Linked DNA regions of Homo sapiens: all the other regions are linked to region 2. The links come from fine-mapping of genetic effects on gene expression. A gene starts in region 2. Each other region holds a variant in brackets. All regions are shown on one strand. Distances are between the middles of the regions. Region 1 overlaps DISC1 (DISC1 scaffold protein). Region 2 holds the start of ARV1 (ARV1 fatty acid homeostasis modulator). Region 3 has its middle 15 kb from the start of MIR1182.

Region 1 (4,244 bases), 930 kb after region 2:
ATCAACGTTATCATCAGCAATGGGACAAGTCGAAGTCCTTAGCCACCACAGTAAGCTACAAGAGCACCATGACATCAGATCTGGGATTTCCCAACAAAAATGCAAACCTGAGTTTGATCATGAGTAAATACCAGGGAAACTCAGATGGAGGTGCATTCCACAAAATAACTGGCCTATGGTCTTCAGAAGTGCCAAGGTCAAGACAGTCAAGGAATGGCCAGGCTGTACGCAGTGGCTCATGCCTATTATCCTAGCACTTTGGGAGGCCATGGTGGGAGGATTGCTTGAGCCTGAGAGTTCGAAACCAGCCTGGGCAAGATAGTGAGACCCCCGTCTCCACAAATTTTTTTTTTTAATTAGCCTGGCGTGGTGATGCACACCTGTAGTTCCTGCTGCTTGGGAGGCTGAGGTGGGAGGATTGCTTGAGCCTGGGATGATGAAGTTGCAGTGAGCCATGATTGTGTCACTGCATTCCAGCCTGAGCAACAGAGCCAGATCCTGTCTTAATTTAAAAAATAATAAAGGAATGACTAAAGAACTGTTCCCAACTCAAAGCGACTAAGAGACATGGGAACTGAGTGCAATGTGTGATTCTGAGGGGCATGGGGGACCCTTTTGTTGTTATAAAAGGCATTATCAGGACATTTGGCAACATTTCAATGAAGCCTGAGGATTCGATGGTAGTAGTCTATCATTATTGATTTCCTGATTTTGATGGTTATATTGTGGTTATTTAGGAAAATACCCTCGTTTTTAGGAAATATCCACTAAGATATTCAAGGGTGGAGGAACAGCGGGTCAACAACTCTCAAATGGTCCAGGAAATAGAAAGTTCTTTGTACTATATTTGTAACTTCTCTGTTGCTCTGTGATTGTTTAAAATGAATTCGCTGAGGTCATGGCTTTTTTTTTTTTTTTTTTTTTGAGATGGAGTCTCACTCTGTTGCCCAGGCTGGAGTGTAATGGCACGATCTCAGCTCACCGCAACCTCTGCCTCCCAGGTTCAAGTGATTCTCCTGCCTCAGCCTCCCAAGCAGCTGGGACCACAGACATGCGTTACCACGCCGGGCTAATTTTGTATTTTTAGTAGAGATGGGGTCTCTCCATGTTGGTCAGGCTAGTCTTGAACTCCTGACCTCAGGTGATCTGCCTGCCTTGACCTCCCAAAGTGCTGGGATTACAGGCATGAGTCACCATGCCCGGTCAAGGGCATGGATTTTGATCCATGAATCAGTGAGAGAGACGTAAGTACAATGCCTGATATTTTTGCCTGTTCTTGAGGATAGCATCCCTACTATTACTGAATTCACTCACATGTGTGAGTTTGGGGATCTTAAAATATCCCAGGGGGTGCTTTATGCACGAGGGATATGGATTAAGTCCAGGGTGAATATAGGTGTTTCCCAGTGATAAGGCAGCTGTGTGTGAAAGCAAGGACAAAAACAAAACTAAACTAAACTAAAAAGAAAAGTCAGGCCAGTGTGCTAGATATTTACAGCTGGGTGATTGTGATGGCACTGTCCTTCCTAAAGCTTTGTAACAGATTAAGTAGATTCTCTAAAGCCGTTCAGGTTAGAGGGTGCCTTGCCCTTATTGCTCCACCGTGCTTTTTGGCAGACATTGTGACCATGTTTAGTAATTATATTTGGCTCCCTGAAGGTAAAACAGGAGCTGCGTACGTATTAGGGGAGAAAAAAGGAAGCACAAGAAGAAAGGAAAAAAAAAATTAAGGGGCTTATGTTTTATATCCTCCCAGTCAATCCCATGAGTGAATAACTACATTACAAATTTTGTCTCGATGTGGTTTTTAAGCCTAAAGAATCTTTCTTTTTCTTTCTTTGCTTTCTTTCTTTCTCTTTCTTTTCTTTCTTTTCTTTCTTTCTTTCTCTCTCTCTTTCTTTTTCTTCTCTCTCTCTCTTTCTTTCCCTCCCTCCTCCCTCCCTTCCTTCCTTCCCTCCCTCCCTTCCTTCCTTCCCTCCCTCCTTCCTTCTCTCCTTCCTTCCTTCCTTCCTTCCTCTTTCTTTCTTTCTTTCTTTCTTTCTTTCTTTCTTTCTCTTTCTTTTATTATACTTTAAGTTCTAGGGTACATGTGCACAACGTGCAGGTTTGTTACATATGTATACATGTGCCATGTTGGTGTGCTGCACCCATTAACTCATCATTTACATTAGATATATCTCCTAATGCTATCCCTCCCCACTCCCCCCACCCCACAACAGGCCCCAGTGTGTGATGTTCCCCATCCTGTGTCCAAGTGTTCTCATTGTTCAATTCCCACCTACGAGTGAGAACATGCAGTGTTTGGTTTTCTGTCCTTGTGATAGTTTGCTGAG[AATG/A]ATGGTTTCCAGCTTCATCCATTTCCCTACAAAGGACATGTGGGCTCCTGAACTTATCCTTTTTTATGGCTGCATAGTATTCCATAGTGTATATGTGCCACATTTGCTTAATCCAGTCTATCATTGATGGATATTTGGGTTGGTTCCAAGTCTGCTATTGTGAATAGTGCCACAATAAACATACGTGTGCATGTGTCTTTATAGTAGCATGATTTATAATCCTTTGGGTATATACCCAGTAATGGGATGGCTGGGTCAAATGGTATTTCTAGTTCTAGATCCTTGAGGAATCGCTACACTGTCTTCCACAATGCTTGAACTAGTTTACAGTCCCACCAACAGTGTAAAAGTGTTCCTATTTCTCCACATCCTCTCCAGTACCTGTTGTTTCCTGACTTTTTAATGATCGCCATTCTAACTGGTATGAGATGGTATCTCATTGCGGTTTTGATTTGCATTTCTCTGATGGTCAGTGATGATGAACATTTTTTCATGTGTCTGTTGGCTGCATAAATGTCTTCTTTTGAGAAGTGTCTGTTCATATCCTTTGCTCACTTTTTGATGGGGTTGTTTGACTTTTTCTTGTAAATTTGTTTAAGTTCTTTGTAGATTCTGGATATTAGCCTTTTGTCAGATGGGTAGATTTTTAAACTTTTCTCCCATTCTGTACGTTGCCTGTTCACTCTGATGGTAGTTTCTTTTGCTGTGTAGAAGCTCTTTAGTTTAATTAGATCCCATTTGTCAACTTTGGCTTTTGTTGCCGTTGCTTTTGGTGTTTTAGTCATGAAGTCCTTGCCCATGCCTGTGTCCTGAATGGTATTGCCTAGGTTTTCTTCTAGGGTTTTTATGGTTTTAGGTCTAACATTTAAGTCTTTAATTCATCTTGAATTAATTTTTGTATAAGGTGTAAGGAAAGGATCCAGTTTCAGCTTTCTACATATGGCTAGCCAGTTTTTCCAGCACCATTTATTAAATAGGGAATCGTTTCCCCATTTCTTGTTTTTGTCAGGTTTGTCAAAGATCAGATGGTTGTAGATGTGTGGTATTATTTCTGAGGGCTCTGTTCTGTTCCATTGGTCTATATCTCTGTTTTGATATCAGTACCATGCTGTTACTGTAGCCTTGTAGTATCATTTGAAGTCAAGTAGTGTGTTGCCTCCAGCTTTGTTCTTTTGGCTTAGGATTGTCTTGGCAATGTGGGCTCCTTTTTGGTTCCATATGCACTTTAAAGTAGTTTTTTCCAGTTCTGTGAAGAAAGTCATTGGTAGCTTGATGCGGATGGCATTGAATCTATAAATTACCTTGGGCAGTATGGCCATTTTCGCGATATTGATTCTTCCTATCCATGAGCATGGAATGTTCTTCCATTTGTTTGTGTCCTCTTTTATTTTGTTGAGCAGTGATTTGTAGTTCTCCTTGAAGAGGTCCTTCACATCCCTTGTAAGTTGTATTCCTAGGTATTTTATTCTCTTTGTAGCAATTGTGAATGGGAGTTCACTCATGATCTGGCTCTCTGTTTGTCTGTTATTGGTGTATGGGAATGCTTGTGATTTTTGCACATTCATTTTGTATCCTAAGACTTTGGTTAAGTTGCTTATCAGCTTAAGCAGATTTTGGGCTGAGATGATGGGGTTTTCTAAATATAAAATCATGTGATCTGTAAAAAGGGACAATTTGACTTCCTCTTTTCCTAGTTGAATACCCTATATTTCTTTCTCCTGCCTGATTGCCCTGGCCAGAAATTCCAACACTATGCTGAATAGGAGTGGTGAGAGAGGGCATCCCTGCCTTGTGCCAGTTTTCAAAGGGAATGCTTCCAGTTTTTGCCCATTCAGTATGATATTGGCTGTGGGTTTGTCATAAATAGCTCTCATTATTTTGAGATACATCCCATCAATATCAAGTTTA
Region 2 (4,244 bases):
TTATAACAGCACCTGGCATACAGCAAGCACTCAATATATGTCGGCTACTTCTCATTTCCCTCACAGCACCCTCGTGAGGAAAATAAAACCCCACAATTAGGTGAACAGTGTTTTCCACTTACAGAGGAGGCATTTTACAAAGACAGGTAATTCACTTGCTCAGAGATACAGAAAGTGACAGAGGTAAGTAAATGCCATTCTTTCTCCACCGTGCAAGGCTGGCCGTGTTACTTACGCCGTTACCAGCTAAGGCCTACCGCAAAATAAAAAAGTCACAAACCTCTCAGTGAGTGACACTTCCTCAAGGAAGTCAGACTGTACTAAAAGGAAATCAGATTGTGCTAATCTTGACGTCTCATCTCAACTAAAAAAAAAAGGTATTGTTTTCCCAGGTACACAATGCCGAAGAAAACCACTGCCAAGTCTTAAAAGCAACCATCTCCCAGTGGGTTCGGTAGACCCCGGTCCTTCCCAAAGCAAGCCATAAGGGAACTCACATAGAGAAGGGGGAAAGAGAAAGGGAGGAGATTGATGGGTAAAAAGACCCACGACAGAACTTCAAAACAAAAAAATGTACACACGTATTTTGTCCCAGAGGCATCTGCTATGATTTATTAAACTGAAGCCAATAGCGCCCATTCTTAATGAATGAGCTGGCGTAGCTCCAATACACACACGGCACTGACACACAGGCTCAAGGCCTGCAGGGGCCTTTTTTCCCTCTGGGAGACACCTGACAGATCGCAGGTTGATCTTAAACAACTGGAAGCAAGATGTCAACGAGCAGATAAGATGGGCTTGCTCTTTTTTTCCATTCCAGGGATCCAATTTTTAGGAACTGTTGTATACGAGACATTAACCCGGGAGGTCAGGAAGCCTGATTTCCAGGCCTAAGATGTGCCAGGCGTCTCCCTCCGGGGGCGGGCTCCGCAAGCCGCCGGGCTGGTTGCTCGTCCGCCCGCCCCTCCCTCGCCCCTTCGGCATCCTCGGGAGGCCGGCGGCGGGAACAGGGCTGCCCCGGGCCACCTGCCATCTCCTCCGCCACCCTTCCAACAGTTGCTTCAGACTCAGGAGAGAGGCCGCCCTGGCCCCAGGAGCATGCTGTCAGCTCATTTCTCGACTCGCCGCCCTGCCCAAAGGCGGCTGCAGGAGGGCGCGCGGCGGCGTGGGTGGCAGCGGCGGGAAGCTGCCCGCCAGGACCCCTGGCCGAGCCGGCTCCCGCGGATCGCGCGCCGCAGCCGGAGGCGTGAGGCCCGGGCGACCCGTACCCCGGCCCGGGACCCCAGCCCCGCTGCCCCGCCGCCCCGGCCGACTCGGACGCCCGCCGCCGCCCACTCACCGCCGCACTCGGCAGAGTACTGGTCCCCCCAGTCCCCGGACTGCGGGCTGCAGCCGCCGCCGCCCGCCGGGGCCTCCTGCTGCTGCCGGTGCTGCAGCTCCTGCTTGAGCAGGGAGAGCGGCGAGTAGTGCTCGGTGGCCAGGGCGCCTGGCCGCAGCCCGGCGGACAGGACCCCCAGCAGCAGCAGCAGCAGGACACGCCGGGCGGCGCCCGCGGCGGCCACAGCGCCGCCCCAGAAGCAGCAGCAGCAGCAGCAGCCGGCAGGTGCCATCTTCCCTCAAGGCGCATGCGCGACAGCCCTTGCCCGGCTCTCAGGCCTCCCCGCCTCTAACCTACGGCGGGCAGGTGGACCGTGGCAAGGGGGCGGGACAAGGGGAGAAGCATTGTGTGCTGGGAATGGTAGTCCCAGCTCGGCCAGCCCGGGGCCGCCTTGCCGGTGCCGGGACTACGAATCCCAATAAGCCCGCGCGGCGCAAGTCTTCCGGTCTGGCGTCTGACGTCTTACCCTCCACAGAATCGGAAGTTCTGGACTGCAGTTGAGTGGAAATGGGCAACGGCGGGCGGAGCGGCCTGCAGCAGGGGAAGGGGAACGTGGATGGGGTGGCAGCGACTCCTACTGCTGCCTCGGCCTCCTGCCAGTACAGGTGCATCGAATGCAACCAGGAGGCCAAAGAGTTGTACCGAGACTATAACCACGGTGTGCTGAAGATAACCATCTGTGTGAGTTGTCAGGTGTGGGGTGCCCTTGAGAAGAAAATGGCGCGGCGGGATTTGGGGACCGCGAGGAGCAGGGTCCTCTGATACAGTCTTTAGTTCGGTAGTTGACATTCCCGCCCGGGATCTTTGCATGAATATCTGTACTGATAGAGAACTCAGCTACCCGACAGCGCTTTTCTCATACTGGGGCATATTTGGGTGATATGACCTAAGCCGGCGAACGGACCGGACCGACAGACAGAGGTAGATGTGGGCATTTTGCAGAGAAATTTAAAGATCAATTAGGTTGACATTTTGGTTCATGCCAAAGCTACTTCCTTCTAGCTCTTCTCCCTTTGACAGAGAGATGGTACCATCCTTACCCTCCACAACCCATGTTGAATTCACCTACGATGCTTTTTAAAGGTTTCATCAATTGTCGTTATTGGATGTCTACGGTGTACAAAGCACTATGCTAGACGTTGGTGGTACAAAACCCAAAAGTGAGGAAGTAAAAATTCTCATTTCAAGGTGTTCGTAGAATACCTTGAACTTTCTGATGATTTTCCATCTCAGAGTTAAGGCCCGAATCCCTGAACTGGCTTATAAGGCCCTATGGAGTCTCCTGCTACTCTTTCCCTTCTTTATTTTACGGCAGAGAGAATAATCTTATGTTTAAAGAGTCTACAAAGTTGGAGGTTCTTTGGGGGTATTAATTAGCAAAGAACCTGTCACAGAATAGACAGTACATTTTTGTCCCATTTCAGATCTTGTGATTTTCTAATCTCTTTAGTAAATTATGGTCTGTAGTAATATACAAGAGAATTGACAAACTGAGTGTATACCTGTATAATCTGCCAACCACATAACGTTCTGATGCATACAACCTCAATTTCCTGTTCCTCTCTCAAGTACTTTCCCTCTTTTGTCAAAATGTCAACCCTTGTTAAATCCAACATATTGCCTGGTCTTGTCCCTGTACCCATGCAGCAGTACGTTGCTGGGGAAAAACAAATTTGTGACGATTAACCTCATATAGGCCTTTCATGATTTCTGGCAATCTTATTTCGGTTTTTTTTTTCTTTCTTTCTTTCTTTTTGAGATAGAGTTTCCCTCTGTCACCCAGGCTGGAGTGCAGTGGGGCACTCTCAGCTCACTAAAACCTCTGCCTCCCAAGTTCAAGCAATTCTCCTGCCTCAGCCTCCCAAGTAGCTGGGATTACAGGCCTGCACCACCACGCCGGGCTAATTTTTGTATTTTTAGTAGAGACCAGGTTTCACCATGTTGACCAGGCTGGTCTTGAACTGACCTCAAATGATCCACCCACCTCGGCCTCCCAAAGTGCTGGGGTTACAGGCATGAGCCACTGCGAAAACAGAAGAGAACTTCCACCAGGTTTGCAACAACATAAACCCAATACTAGCATTTGTTATTTCTTTACTGTACTGTCTTCTTCTGCCTTCTGCTGGATCATTCCCACCAGCATGCATACTGTTACTTCTTCCATCAAAAAAAAAAAAAAAACCAACACCACCAACAAAATACACTTGCTGCCACTTCCCCCTTTAGCTTCTGCTCTTTTTCTTCTTAATTAGAAAGCAGACCTTCTAAGATATGTTTGTACTGTCTATTTCCTTTCCTAGTTTCTCTTGAACCTGCTTTAGTCACATTCCCACCCGCATTTCATTAGAAACTGTTCTTGTTAAGATCACCACTTCCACTTTGCTAAATCCAGTAGTCGATTCTCAGTTAATGATCAGCAGCATTTTACCTCATTACTTCCTCCTCCTTGAAATGCTGTGTGCGCTTCCCAGGATTCAGTGCTCTTCTTATTGTCTTCTTACTTCACTGGCTGTTACCCCTCAATCTCCTTTCTGCTTTTGCTTCACCTCCCTTACCTCTTAATCATGGTGTATTCCAACGCATAGTCATCGTGCCTCTTTCTGTCTGCATGCTTTCCCTTGAAGAGCTCATTCTGTCTCATGGCTTTAAATACCGTCAAAATTTTGACAATTTCCAAATTTATATTTCTACCCTGAACCTCTTCCCTGAACTCCAGACTTAAATGTCCAACTACCTACTTGACTTCTCCACTTGGATTTCAATAGACAGCTCAAATATACCCATCACAGTTAATGGCAACTTTACCATTTTAACTCCTAAGACCAAGAAACCTTGGTGTCATCCCTATTTCTACTCTTCCTCTCAC
Region 3 (4,244 bases), 25 kb after region 2:
AGTTTACAGCCTGGGGCAAGGGCTGAGTGGGGCACACAGGAGTGAGACCAGCCTCACCAACTACATGGGAGCTGGGGAGGCCTCTCACTACCAGCTATCTCCCACTTCCCTGGTGAACTAGATGACACAGCAGAGGCAGCCATAATCCCTTCTGGAACGTAACCCCATTGGCCTGAGAACCACCCCCTCATCCTGCACAATGGCAGTGGCAAGCCCTACCCAAGGAGAGTCTGAGCCTAGACCCACCTATCCCTGCCCAATGCCACCACGGTATTTCTCTACCCACCCTGATAACTGATTACAAAAGACATAAATTCTTGGGAGCTTTATGGCCTCACCCATCATCCAAGAAGCCTGAATACTTATCCTGGCCAACTTAAGACAAGCTTATAGCCCCCTTCTACTACCACAGCTGGTGTTCTCTTGAAACCACCACCTCCTGGCTAGAGGCCAACCAACTCAGGCCATTATAGCAACTCATTACAGAATAACCCTGTTCCCAGGAAGGAGAAAACAGCTAATTCCACTGTCTGCAACATCCTGGCTAACCAGAGGTCCTGAGTCTGTCCACGTGACAACTTCACTGCTGGCATAACCAGCATTCAAGAAAGCCAGCACACTAAGCATATCTACAACCAAGGACTCTCACAGTCTATTTCACTCCCTGCCTCCTCCACCAGAGCAGGTGCTGGTATCCATGGTTTGGAGACCTGAAGATGAATCACATCATGAGACTCTTGCAGACATTCTCCAGCATCAGCCTAGAGCCTGGTGGACCCGCTGAGTGGATAGGCCCAGAAGAACAATAACAATCACTGCAGTCCAGCTCTCAGGAAGCTCCGTCCCACGGGAAAGTGGGAGTGTCCCACATCAAGGGATGACCCCATGGCACAAAAGAATCTGAACAGCAGGCCTTGAGTTCTAGATCTTTCCACCAAAATAGTCTACCCAAATGAGAAGAAACCAGAAAAGTAATTCTGGTAATATGACAAAACAGGGTTCTATAACACTCCCAAAAGATCACACTAGCTCCCTAGCAATGGATCCAAACCAAGACGAAATCTCTGAATTGCCAGAAAAAGAATTCAGAAGGTTGATTATTAAGCTACTCAAGGATATACCAGAGAAACTTGAAAACCAACTTAAAGAAATCTAAAAAACAATACAAGATATGGATGAAAAATTCTCCAGAGAAATAAATGTCATAAGGAAAAAACAATCACAATTTCTGGAAATGAAAGACACTTAGAGAAATACAAAATGCACCGGAAAGTTTCAACAATAGAACAAGTAGAAGAAAGAAATAAAGAGCTCAAAGACAGGGCTTTCAAATTAACTCAATCTGACAGAGACAAAGAAAAAATATTTTTTAAAAAATGAACAAGCCTCCAAGAAATGCGAGATTATGATAAATGGCCAAACCTAAGAATAATTGGTGTTCTTGAGAAAGAAGAGAAATCTAAAAGTCTGGAAAACTTATTTGAGGAAATAATTGAGAAAAACTTCCCTGGTGTTGCTAGAGATCTAGATATCCAAATAAAAGAAACTCAAAGAACACCTGGAAAATGCATCACAAAAAAGATCATCACCTAGGCACACAGTCATCAGGTTATCTAAAGTCAAGATGAAAGAAGAATCTTAAGAGCAGTGAGACAAAAGGATCAGGTAACCTATAAAGGAAAACCTATCAGATTAACAGTGATTTCTCAGCAGAAACCTTAAAAGCCAGAAGGGATTAGGGTCCTATATTTTAGCCCCCTGAAACAAAATGATTGTCAGCCAAGAATTTTGTATCCAGAAAAACTAAGCTTCATAAATGAAGACGAGAAAAAATCTTTTTCAGACAAACAAATGCTGAGAGAATTCACCAGTGCCAAACCAGCACTACAACAAATGCTAAAAGGAGTTCTAAATCTTGAAACAAAACCTTGAAATACACCAAAATAGAACCTTCTTAAAACATAAATCTCACAGGGCCTACAA[AACAC/A]ACACACACACACACACACACACACAAACACACACGCAATGGGGGAAAAAGGTATTTAGGCAACAACTAGCATAATGAATAGAAAAGTGCCTCACATCTTAATACTAATATTGAATGTAAATGGCCTAAATGCTACACTTAAAAGATACAGAATGGCAGAATGGATAAAAATCCACCAACCAAGTATCTGCTGTCTTCAAGAGACCCACCTAACACATAAAGACTCATAAACTTAAGGCAAAGGGGTGGAAAAATACATTCCATCCAACTGGAAACCAAAAGCAAGCATGAGTAGCTATTCTTACATCAGACAAAAGAGACTTTAAAACAACAAAAAAAGAGAGAAAGTGGGCATTGTATAATAATAAAAGGATCAGTCCAACAGGAAAATATCACAATCCTAAATATATATGCACTTAACATTGGAGCTCCCAAATTCATAAAACAATTACTACTAGACTTAAGAAATGAGATGGCAACACAATAATAGTAGGGGAATTCAATACTCCACTGACAGACAGCACTAAACAGGTCATCAAGACAGAAAGTCAACAAAGAAACAATGGACTTAAACTATCCCCTAGAACAAATGGACATAGCAGATATTTACAGAACATTCTACCCAGCAACTGCAGAATATACATTCTTTTCCTCAGCACATGGAACACTGTCCAAGATAGACCATGATAGGTGACAAAACAAGTCTCAATACATTTAAGAAAATCAAAATTATATCTAATATCCTCTCAGATCACAGTGGAATAAAACTGGAAATTAACTCCAAAAGGAACCCTCGAAACTACACAAATACATGGAAATTAAATAACCTGCTCTTAATGATCTTGAGGTCAACAACAAAATCAAGATGGAAATTTAAAAAGTTATTTGATCTGAACAATAATAGTGACATAAACTATTAAAACCTCTGGGATATAGCAAAAGCAATGCTAAGAGGAAAGTTCATAGCATTAAATGTCTACATCGAAAAGTCTGAAAGAGCACAAATAGACAATCTAAGGTCACACCTCAAGGAACTAGAGAAACAAGAACAAACCAAACCCAAACTTAGCAGAAGAAAAGAAATAACAAATATCAGAGCAGAACTAAATGAAATTTAAACAAAAATATACAAAAGATAAATGAAACAAAAAAGCTGGTCTTTGAAAAGATAAACAAAATTAATAGATTATTAGTGAGATTAACCAAGAAGAGAGAAGATCCAAATAAGGTCAATTAGAAACAAAACAGGAGATATTACAACTTATCATACAGAAATACAAAAGAACGTCCATGGTTACTATGAACACCTTTACATGCACAAACTAGAAAACCTTGAGGAGATGGATAAATTTCTAGAAATATACAACCCTTCTAGATTAAATCAGGAAGAAATAGAATCTCTGAACAGATCAATTAAAAGTAGCGACATTGAAACAGAAATAAATCCCAACAAAAAAAGTCCAGAGCCAGATGGATTCACAGCTGAATTCTATCAGACATTCAAAGAAGAACTGGTACTAATCTTACTGAAATGATTCCAAAAGATAGAGAAAGAAGGAATCCTCCCTAAATCATTCTATGAAACCAGTATCACCCTAATACCAAAACCAGGAAAGGACAAACAAAAAAAAAAGAAAACTACAGATCAATGTCCTTAATGAACATAGATGCAAAAATCCTCAACAAAATACTAGCTAACCAAATCCAACAGCATATCAGAAAGATAATCCACCATGGTCAAGTGGGTTTCAGGGATGCAGGGATGGTTTAACGTATGCAAGTCAATAAATAAATGTAATACATCACATAATCAGAATTAAAAACAAAAATCATATGATCATCTCAATAGACCCAGAAAAAGCATTTGACAAAATCCAGCATCCATTTATGATTAAAACCCTCAGCAAAGCTGACATAGAAGGGACATACCTCGGGGTAATAAAAGCCATCCATAACAAACCCACAGCCAACATTATACTGAACAGAGAAAAGTTGAAAGCATTCCCCCTGAGAACTGAAACAAGACAAGGATGCCCATTTTCACCACTTTTTTACAACATAGTACTGGAAGTCCTAGCCAGAGCAATCGGACAAGAGAAAAAAATAAAGAGCATCCAAATCAGTAAAGAGGAAGTTAAACTGTCTGCCTATCAACGATATGATCATATACCCAGAAAACCCTAAAGACTCATCCAAAAAGCTCCTAAATTCAATAAATGAATTCAGTGAAGTTTCAGGCTACAAAATCAATGTACAC

What was found.
Region 1: its variant is fine-mapped to the expression of ARV1 in cerebral cortex (GTEx, PIP 0.96).
Region 3: its variant is fine-mapped to the expression of ARV1 in whole blood (INTERVAL, PIP above 0.99).

Annotation. Positions count from the first base shown.
Region 1 is chr1:231,905,117-231,909,360 of GRCh38, forward strand. The region is part of intron 9 of DISC1 (DISC1 scaffold protein); the gene reads left to right. All of the region lies in intron 12 of TSNAX-DISC1 (TSNAX-DISC1 readthrough (NMD candidate)), which reads left to right. Among named protein-coding and RNA genes, the nearest start is that of DISC1-IT1, 19 kb to the right of the region's middle. The variant AATG/A (reference allele first, on the strand shown) is at 2,334.
Region 2 is chr1:230,977,221-230,981,464 of GRCh38, forward strand. It overlaps ARV1 (ARV1 fatty acid homeostasis modulator), which reads left to right and starts at 1,874. Exons shown (of 6, transcript NM_022786.3): 1 at 1,874-2,059. The coding sequence starts at 1,886. It overlaps TTC13 (tetratricopeptide repeat domain 13), which reads right to left and starts at 1,641. Exons shown (of 23, transcript NM_024525.5): 1 at 1,340-1,641. The coding sequence starts at 1,610. RefSeq lists silencers at 956-1,245, 1,266-1,525 and an enhancer at 1,806-2,105.
Region 3 is chr1:231,002,551-231,006,794 of GRCh38, forward strand. No RefSeq gene overlaps it. Among named protein-coding and RNA genes, the nearest start is that of MIR1182, 15 kb to the right of the region's middle. The variant AACAC/A (reference allele first, on the strand shown) is at 1,984.